Linked DNA regions of Homo sapiens: region 1 is linked to region 2. A link means that fine-mapping ties the variant in region 2 to the expression of a gene that starts in the linked region. Tissue or cell type: whole blood. Region 2 holds a variant in brackets; the other region holds the start of a gene. All regions are shown on one strand. Distances are between the middles of the regions.

Region 1 (5,000 bases), 89 kb before region 2:
CTCCTGCCTCTGTGTCCTGGCACCTTTTCTCCTCTTGGGCTTGCTGAACAGGGCACATGTCTGGCATTGGGAGCAGAACTACTCTTCTCCATTCATTTTACTCTCACAAGAGCTTCAAGAGGTAGGATGGGTGGAGATGATCTACCTCCATGTTACAGCTAAGGTCAGTCAAACTCCAAGTTCACGCAAGTTGGTGGCAGAACAGGGTCCAGTGATGATCAAGGAAGGAGATGGGGTGGGGAACGTTTTCTTTTCTTTTTTTCTTTTTTTGAGACTGAATCCTGCTCTGTTGCCTAGGCTGGAGTGCAGTGGTGTGATCTCGGCTCACTACAACCTCCATCTCCTGGGTTCAAGCGATTCTCCTGCCTCAGCCTCCTGAGTAGCTGGGACTACAGGCACGTGCCACCACGCCTGACTAATTTTTTTTATTTTTAGTAGAGACGAGGTTTCCCCGTGTTAGCCACGATGGTCTCGATCTCCTGACCTCATGATCCACCCGCCTTGGCCTCCCTAAGTGCTGGAATTACAGCCGTGAGCCACCATGCCCGGCCTGGGGGCAGTTTTCTGAATCAGGCACAGGCTGGGCTTCCCCAGGGACTTGAGGAAGCTGGTTCTGTTTGCCCTTCTCCAAGGCATATGGGGCAGAAGGGTCCCCACTTCATCTATGAGATGGAATGGAGAGAACCCCAGAATCTTGGCCCCAGCCATCACTTTCCAGCCCTTCTGCAGTCTTGATGGTTGCCAGTAGGTGCCGTCAGTTTGCAACTTTTTGGTCTGTCCTGCAGGTCCGGCTGCCAGTCCCAATCTCCCTGCAATCATCTCTCAGTAAGTAGGAGGTAGCCCAATCCCCGTGAGGCTGAAAGACCCCTGTCCTGGGGGAAGAAGCAGGAAGAGGGTCTCTGAACTGCATTTCAGCTTGGCTGACCTGCAGCTTTCTAGGCCGAGACAAAAAAAAAAAAAAATCCACAGTGGGTTACTGATTATTCCTGGACAGGTACGCTTAACCTGAAACCAGCTCCAGTACAGCAGAAGCCTTTGTAGGGAAGAATGGGTGGGAATTAGCGGGGGCCTGAGAGGGAACCTAGGAGATGGATCTTTGCTCCAAATGCCACTCCAGGGCTCTTCTCAATTTGGGCAGGATTGGGCAAGGCTGGGGGAATAGGGATCAATAGGATTTTACAGAGGGTCAAGCCAGGCCCAACACTAGCCCAAGTAGCAACACTGGGTGAATTAAAAAAGCATCCCTTCCTTAAAATTCTTTTTTTTTTTTTTTTTTGAGACAGAGTCTTGCTCTGTCACCTGGACTGGAGTGCAGTGGTATGATCTTGGATCACTGTAACCTCCTCCTCCTGGGGTTCAAGCGATTCTTCTGCCTCAGCCTCCCAAGTAGCTGGGATTACAGGCATGCGCCACCACGCCCGGCTAATTTTTGTATTTTTAGTAGAGATGGGGTTTCACCGTGTTGGCCAGACTGGTCTCAAACTCCTGACCTCAGGTGATCTGCCCACCTTGGCCTCCCAAAGTGCTAGGATTACAGGCATGAGCCACTACGCCTGGCCTTCTTTTTTCTCTTTCTTTCTTTTTTTTTTTGAGATGGAGTCTCGCTCTGTCGCCCAGGTTGGAGTGCAGTGGCGCAATCTCAGCTCACTGCAAGCTCCACCTCCCGGGATCATGCCATTCTCCTGCCTCAGCCTCCCTAGTAGCTGGGACTACAGGCACCCGCCACCACGCCCGGCTAACTTTTTGTATTTTTAGTAGAGAGGGGGTTTCACCGTGCTAGCCAGGATGGTCTCGATTTCCTGACCTCGTGATCTGCCCGCCTCGGCCTCCCAAAGTGCTGGGATTACAGGCGTGAGCCACCGCGCCCGGCCTTCTTTCTTTCTTTCTTTTTTAGACAGAGTTTCCTTCTTTCACCTAGGCTGGTGTGCAGTGGTACAATTCTAGCTCACTGCAGCCTCCAACTCCTGGGCTCAAGTGATCCTCTTGCCTCAGGCTCCCGAGTACCTGGGACCACAGGTGAACGCCACCACACCTGGCTAATTTTAAAATTTTTTTGTAGAGACAAGGTCTCACTACGTTGCCCAGACTGGTCTTGAACTCCTGGGCTCAAGTGATCCTCCCGCCTCAGCCTCCAAAAGTGCTGACATTACAGGTGTGAGTCACTGCTGCAGGCCCCTCAAATCCTTCACTGCCATCTGGGAAATGATCACAACAGCTCTACAAATACACAATGATTACAAGGAATGGTGCCCCACTGGAGTTGTTCAACGCAAAACTTGCACATTGCAAGTGGCAATCTCCCAGGCCTGCCTCCCTCCACGAGTGGGTCTGAATGGGCCTGAGAGGCAAACATCCAAGAAGGAGGAAGAGGCTCGGCGGCACCTCCCTCCCCGGGAGTTCTGCTGATTCCATCTTGGGGAAGCAGGGTGGACCAGGGCCCAAATGCGCCCTGGGGAGATTGCGGGGGCGGGAGAGGTTGCAAGGGGCAAGTGGCAAGAGCCTGTTAACGTCTTAGGGCCTCCAGGCCTTTCTGTGCCCCTAGCTGTGCCTGTACGCTTTACCCCACCTCAGGAGGCTTGGTCTCCAGCGGTTGAGGCTGGAAGCACCGGGGTGCGGTGGAAAGGGCTCTGTCCAGGAAGACCGGATCCGCAGAGCCGGGAGTCCGGGCTAGGAAGTCCCTTTCTCGGTGGGAGACTGAGGCCGCCTTGGCGGGGCGGGACGAGACTCCTCCGAGGTCGGGAAAGGGGGCCCCGCAGCAGCCCCTTGGCTTCCCTTCTCCCTTGCCTCCCCTCCGGGGCTCCGGTTCAGAGGCACTCTGGGCGCCTGCTACAGCTTCCAAACTGCGCCGCTTCCTTCTTCGGCAGAAAAGGACTTTCAGATGCGGCGGCGGCGGCGGCGGCGACTCAGGACAGCGCCCCCTCCCCCTAACGGCCGCCTCTCCCTCTCCCCCTCGCCCGCCCCGGCTCCCCCACCTCTGGGAAGGCGCTGGGGGTGTGGCCAGGGACCGGTATAAAGTCCGGGGGAGCCGGTCCCGGGCAGCCGCTCAGCCCCCTGCCCCTCGCCGCCCGCCGCCTGCCTGGGCCGGGCCGAGGATGCGGCGCAGCGCCTCGGCGGCCAGGCTTGCTCCCCTCCGGCACGCCTGCTAACTTCCCCCGCTACGTCCCCGTTCGCCCGCCGGGCCGCCCCGTCTCCCCGCGCCCTCCGGGTCGGGTCCTCCAGGAGCGCCAGGCGCTGCCGCCGTGTGCCCTCCGCCGCTCGCCCGCGCGCCCGCGCTCCCCGCCTGCGCCCAGCGCCCCGCGCCCGCGCCCAGTCCTCGGGCGGTCATGCTGCCCCTCTGCCTCGTGGCCGCCCTGCTGCTGGCCGCCGGGCCCGGGCCGAGCCTGGGCGACGAAGCCATCCACTGCCCGCCCTGCTCCGAGGAGAAGCTGGCGCGCTGCCGCCCCCCCGTGGGCTGCGAGGAGCTGGTGCGAGAGCCGGGCTGCGGCTGTTGCGCCACTTGCGCCCTGGGCTTGGGGATGCCCTGCGGGGTGTACACCCCCCGTTGCGGCTCGGGCCTGCGCTGCTACCCGCCCCGAGGGGTGGAGAAGCCCCTGCACACACTGATGCACGGGCAAGGCGTGTGCATGGAGCTGGCGGAGATCGAGGCCATCCAGGAAAGCCTGCAGCCCTCTGGTAAGGTACCCCTGGCCTCCCAATTCCCTCCTGAGTGCGCTCCCTTCCCAGCGGCTTCTTCCCCATTCCAGCCGCCCTGGAAGGCCCTTAAAAATCCCCTATGAGTTGAAGAGAAGGCAGGTACGTGGCAGGGCCCGACTGGCATGGGACAGGCTCATCAAGGAAACTGCTACCGAGTCCCTAGCAGCCTGTTGCCACCACCAAGGGAGACTGTCCCATCGCTCCATCTCAAACCTCCAAGGGTTGTCTGTTTGATAAGGGGGTCCCAGTGGGAGGCCTGGCTGCTGGTGCAGGAGTGGCAGATTAAGGTCCAGTTAAGTCAGCTGTCTAGGGCCAGAGAACTGGAGGATGGTGGTGGGGTGTGTGTTGGGGAGGATGAGGGAGTGGGGAAAGCTTTCTGTTCCTGATCCAGGCCGAGGGTGAAATCCCAGTGGTCTGGGGAGCCAGGGCCTGAACTTTTTTTTTACATGGTCCAGTGGTGGAGTGGGACATACAAATTAGAGGGACTTTGGCGTTGAGGGGCATTAGACTTGCCCTTCCCCAAAGCCCAGAGCCAGGTCACCTTGTTGTTTGAGAGGCAGTGGGAAGACAGGGGTCCCTCTGCCAGGCCTGGACACCTCTGCCTGCCCTGGTATACAGGCCCCCTGTTCTTTTCTCCAGGCAGGTAGGATTTGAGGTGGTAGAAAAGTCTTGGCTCCTAGCCGAGAGCTGCAGGAGCCTCATGTGTGTGGGATAGGGAATAGAGAAGGGGCCAGGGCGCCAGGGGAGAGAAACAGAGAGAGAGAGAGAGAGAGAGAGAAACACACACACACACACACACACACACACACACACACACACACAGAGACAGAGAGAGAGAGAGAGAGAGAGAGAGAGAGAGAGAGAGAGAGAGAGAGAGAGACTCTGAGAAGGCCCTTGCCCTAACCTCATTCTTACACTTTCTTTTTTTGTTTCTCAGTTTCTCCTTAGACTCTCAGTCTCTTTTCCTTCTTTCTCTTGCTCTTTTGTTCTTCCTGATTTGTCTCTCAACCTCTAGTTTCACTAGTCATGCTCTCGAGTTCTGTTTTCCTCAGTGTCTTCTGCCCATCGTGCGTTTCTTTCTCCACCTTATTCTGTGTTTCTGTTTCAGTTGCTCTGCTTCTCTCCCTCTCTTTCTGTTGCTGTTTCTCTGTGTCTCTGTCACTGTTGGTCTTTCCCTGTTACTTTGGGAATCTCTCTGTCTGTCTTTCTGTATCTATGCCTCTGTTTCTCATTCCATCTCCGACCCTGTTTTGCTCTCCTGTGCCTCTGTCTGTCTCTGTCTCTTTTCCTGGTGCTTGAAGCTTCCA
Region 2 (5,256 bases):
ATGCAGTGGCGTAATCTTGGCTCACTGCAACCTCTGCCTCCTGGGTTCGAGCAATTCTTGTGCCTTAGCCACCTAAGTAGCTGAGACTAACAGGCGTGTGCCACCATGCCCAGCTAATTTTTGTATGTTTAGTAAAGTTGGGGTTCTGCCATGTTGGCCAGGCTGGTCTTGAACTCCTGACCTCAAGTGATCTGCCTGCCTCAGCCTCCCAAAGTGCTGGGATTACAGGCGTGAGTCACTGTGTCCAGTCCCCCCTTTTTTTTTGAGATTGGGTCTCACTCTGTTGCCCAGGCTGGGGTGCAGTGGTGTGATCATGACTCACTGCAGCCTCAACCTCCCAAACTCAAGGGTTCCTCCTACCTCAGCCTTCTGAGTAACTGGGACTACAGGTGTGTACCACCATGCCTGGCTAACTTTTTTTTTTTTTTTGTAAAGACAGGGTTTTGCCATGTTGCCCAGGCTGGTTTCGAACTCCTAGCCTCAAGTGATCCTCCCACCTTGGCCTTCCAAAGTGCTGGGATTATAGGTGTGAGCCACTGTGCCTGGCCCTGAGTTTATTCTTGTCTCCAGGAAACCCTTGGAATAATCATAGACCCTAGCCTTGGGGCCTTAGCATCAACTCATAACCTTGGCAGGATTGCCAGCTAAAATATGGGACACCTGAGTCATATTTGGGACATACTTATGTTACAAAAGTATTTGTTTTTTATTTGAAATTCCAGTTTAACAGGGCTTCTGTGTTTTTCTTTGGTAAACCTGACAACCCTAAACCTCAATCTCCGCCATTGTAATCCTGAGCAGTTGGGCTGTGAGCAGCCTACACTATCCCAGAAAGAGCCTGAGGGTCATGGTTTTCTGCCTGGTGACTGTAGGAGCACTGGAAGATCTCCCCTCGTCCTGGATCTCTGACTGTCTTTTAGCATCCTGAGTGTTCTCAGTGGGACCTGGATGTCCTGTGGCACCTGCCTCCCCCAACAGTGCCCAGCTAAGCTTCTCTTCTGCCCATCTCAGCAGCAAAGTGCTCATTCGCTCCACCCCACCTTTGCCTTGGCAGTGCCTGTCCATCTCCCTCCAGCCTGCTCTCCCCCTACCTACTCACCCCTACTGGGCTTAGGCAAGACACATGTGGGCCTGGCCCGCAGGGGTCCACAGGGCAGAACTAACTCATCAGCTCTAGGTGTGCTGAGTGGAACTGGAGAGGGAAGGGTGCCATGTGAGCTTGTGAAGACGGTGGGCAGTGCCTCCCAAACTTGCCCTATTGTAAAAATTGCCTAAGGGCTGGTTGGAAATGCTATTCCTGGTTGGAATCAGAGATCTCCTGGGAGGGGAATCACAGTAGCTCAGGGACCTGGCCGAGACTGGAGGCTTGGGGGTGGCCCCCTGCAAGGAAGCGCTGTCCAAGCAGAGGTCTGAAGGCTCAGTAGGAGTCAGGCAGGTGAGGCTTTGGGGGGCAGGGTGGGGATCCAGGAGAGGAAAGAGCATAGCAAATGCCTTGATGGGAGAAGAAGAGCCTGGCCTGTCTGAGGCCAGAGAAGAGGCCACTGTGGTTAGCGTGTGGAGAGCGAACAGAAAGGCGAGTTGAGCTTGGAGAAAGCAGGCGGAGCCACATCTGGCCAGGCCTTGTTGGGCTGGTTAAGAATTCAGCCTAAAGCAATGGTAATGGCCTGGGGCAGGCACCAACTGAACCTTTTTCAAAGGCGAGTCCTGAGTTGCCTCCCTCCTCTGATGTTTGATCTCTGAAGGTGCCCATGTTGCCTCCATCCTGCCACCCACCCCACCCCCAATCTGGCAAAAAGCCACTCACTCACCCAGCAGGGACTTTCCACTAAGTCTGGTGGGGGCGGGGGACCAGGGGGACCAGGGGGCTGTTGCTTGAGAGAAATGGGTGTGGGCATTTACCAACGGATTTAGAAAGTTTCCATATTAGACAAGTAACTTGAGAAAATACTGTTTTTGTTATTGAGAAGATGCTATAAATGTTCAAGTATGTGGTAGGCATACCACG[C/T]GTCCTTGTGTAATCCCCTCCCCTGAGTGTAGGCTGGACCTGGTGACTTGCTCCTAATGAGTAAAATATGGTAAAAGTGGGGGAATGTCACTTTTGAGATTAGACTATACAAAACTGGGACTCCCCTCCTGCTCACACTCTTCGAGACTTCTTTCTTATGTGTTCTGATGAAGCAGCTGCCATGTTGGAGGCTGCCCCATGGAACGGCCAACGTGCTGAGGAACAGAGGGCACAGGCAGTGAAGGGCATCGGGGCCTTGAATCCAGTGGTCCACGAGGAACTGAATCCTGCCAGCAACCACTCGAGTAAGCTTGGTATTGGGTCCCCAATTGAGCCTTGAGATGACTCCAGCTCAGCTGACAGCTTGACTGCAGCCTGCAGAGGTGCTGAAGTGGAGGACTCAGCTAAGCTGCACCTGGATCTGTGACCCACAGAAACTGTGAGATGATAAAAGTTGTTGTTTCAAGACACTGAGCTTTAGGGTACTTTATTATGCATCAAGAGGCAACTAGTACAAAGTATAATTTGGAGGAGACCAGCCATACCTGTACCCTCCTTAAGTATACATTTGTATAAGTTGAAATCATGGTGGGTGCACTAATTTTGAAGTCTTAAAAAATCACTTATCATTATGGGGGAGATATCATTCATCAGGGTCCATGGTCTGTGTATGTATCAGAGTCTGGCCAGAAAACAGAAACCACACCAGGTATCTTAACAAAATTTAATATGATGAATTAGATGGCTTAATAACAAGTACAGTGTGAAAGGTGAAAATCATCAATAACCAATCATCAAAATCACTCTCAGAAAATGTCATACATCATCAGGACCTGTGGCCTTGGAAACTCAAAAGCCAAGAATTATTGAGCTTATTGTGTTTGTTGCATTTAAGCTTCTCTTCTGTTCCTTTGTGGTGTCAGAGGCTGAGTTTATTTTGAACATGAACAGAGAGACTTCTCTCTCCTTGACAAGCGTGATTTGTTGAATTAGCTAGTTAGGTGGGAGTGTAGTGGTGATACACTGTGTAGTAGAAGCATTCTCCATGTTTCCATTCCCCATCACAGTCACACAGCTGTGGATTTCCAGGCCTGATTGTCCATTGTGTTGATGTCCCAGTTTATTAAACCACTTCCTTATTGTGGTTCCCAGTTTTTGACCTTTAAAGAAAGACTTCAATGCACACATGTATGCAGATAACACTTGGCTTCGTTTGGATAATTTCCTTGGAATAATTTCCCAGGGAAAGAGATTACTGGGTCAAAGGGGGAGGAAGAGCTTCATGCCTTTTGCTGGTAATTGCTTTACTGCTTTCCAAAGGCACTATACCAACCCAGCATCGACAGTTTATAGTGGATGAGGGGTCAGCTTCAGGGCACCAAGTTATTCACTCTTAGGAAATCAGCTTCCAGGTCCTTCATCAACCACCCAAAAGGGCCTGTAGATGTGAGAAGTGGAGTCCAGCACAGAGAATCCCGGGCTGAGAAGTAGGATGTCTGAAAGTCCAGCCTCGAGGCAGCAGAGTGAGCAGTTAACAGTATGACCTATGGACAACAGATCCTGAGTTCGAATTCTGCCTTCACCACTAAGTGACCCTGGGCAAGTTACTTAATTTTTCTAAGTCATTAGTTTTTTCATCTATAAAGCAGGAATTATAGCAACACTAAGCCTTGAGGAGGTGAGAGGAAGATTAAACGAGTCATGACATGTGAAGTGCTTAGACCAGGGACTAGCACTTGGTAAATATGTAGAGTGAGTGGTATTACCATTTCTATTATTCAGACGGAGACTCCATCTCCATCAGCCCTGCTTCTGTAGTGGCTGACCACCTCCTCTTCTGGGTTTCCACGTGAGACCCCACCCTGGTTCTTCAGTTTTTCCTGGGATCTCGTCTCTCTGAGACCAAGAAGCAGTCTTAGCTTTGAGATATTGAGTTGGATGGTCCTTGAATGCCCCCTTGTGGACAGCTGGCTTTCTTTCACTCTTTCAGCTGAAGAGGAAAACTGGCTGTGTGTGTGTGTGTGTGTGTGTGTGTGTGTGTGTGTGTGTGTGTGTCTCGGGGTGGGGAAGAAGGTGGGGGAGGCCTCCATGTTTGCAGACAAAACAGGAAATAGCACGTCATGGCATCTTTCTTGCCGGCTAGGAAGGCATGGGTGTATGGGTCTCTGTACACTTACATAAACATGGAGGGGAGCTGCATGTGCTGGTGTGCAGGTGTGTATGTGGGCATACACTTGATACCACTCTCCTTGTTACTGGGGTCTCTCACTGGGTTCTACTGAGACGATGTGATTAATGTGATTTGAAAAATGAAAGCCCTGTGCACACACGAGGACATTGTTATGTAGAATAGCTTGTATAACCATTCGGTTGATCCTTTCACTGATTTGGACATTCAGTCCCACAGTTGTTTATTGAGTACTTACTATGTACCGGGTCTCCTGAGGTCTGGGGAGGCTACAGTGACCAAGACAGAATCTGTTTCCATCCTCTCACAATCCAGTGGGTGAGACAGACAGGTGAGTAAACCTGTGGCGTGCTAGTCCAGCACTTGGTAAATATTCAGTAAATATGAAGAGTGAGTGTTTTTACCATATTCCCAGAGGAGGGGCAGAGCGGCTGTGGAGGGGGAAGGAAGGCTGCCTGGAGGAGGTGACATCTGAGCTGAGCTATGAACTGTGAGTGATCTATCCTCTCCCTGGCTTTGGGGCAGAGGGCTTGGTACAAAAAGCATTAGTGGGGTTTTGGAAGTGCAGGCTGTAACCCCAACTCCCTGAGCAAGTCCTTTTTTTTGGGCCGGAGTTTCCTCCTGGACTAAGTCAGGGGATTTGGCCATGAAAGCCACAGTTTCCATCAACTTTGATGTTTTCTGACCTTTTATTCCCTCAGCCTGAGGAATTCCCATTTCTTCCACTGGTCTTTCATGCCCCATCCTCTTCCCTAAAGAAATGAAAACCAGACTGAGTGATAAAAAGCAGTGAGACATTGGTATACACATGTAGGACACACACACACACTCTCACACACACACACTTTCTCACACTCTCTCTCACACACACACACACACTCACACACACACACACACAGACACACACACTCCTCTATTCCCGCCCTACCCCTGCTCTGCTGGAAACCTCGAGCTGCCTCCCAGGTCAGAGTGGTCTGACAAGGGAGGGGTGGAGTGCAGAGGCAGAGTGGAGGTGAGAGCTCAGCAGACCCAGTTTCTTTTATGCTTGGCCACTCAGGCAGGT

Evidence for each region. PIP is the estimated chance that this variant, and not a neighbour inherited with it, causes the effect.
Region 1: IGFBP4 starts here. The variant in region 2 is fine-mapped to the expression of IGFBP4 in whole blood (TOPMed, PIP above 0.99).

Annotation. Positions count from the first base shown.
Region 1 is chr17:40,440,413-40,445,412 of GRCh38, forward strand. It overlaps IGFBP4 (insulin like growth factor binding protein 4), which reads left to right and starts at 3,038. Exons shown (of 4, transcript NM_001552.3): 1 at 3,038-3,672. The coding sequence starts at 3,324. RefSeq lists an enhancer at 839-888 and silencers at 2,935-3,124, 3,135-3,184, 3,195-3,244.
Region 2 is chr17:40,529,531-40,534,786 of GRCh38, forward strand. It overlaps LOC107985090 (a long non-coding RNA gene), which reads right to left and starts at 4,944. Exons shown (of 2, transcript XR_001752884.2): 1 at 4,880-4,944; 2 at 2,716-3,549. The variant C/T (reference allele first, on the strand shown) is at 2,006.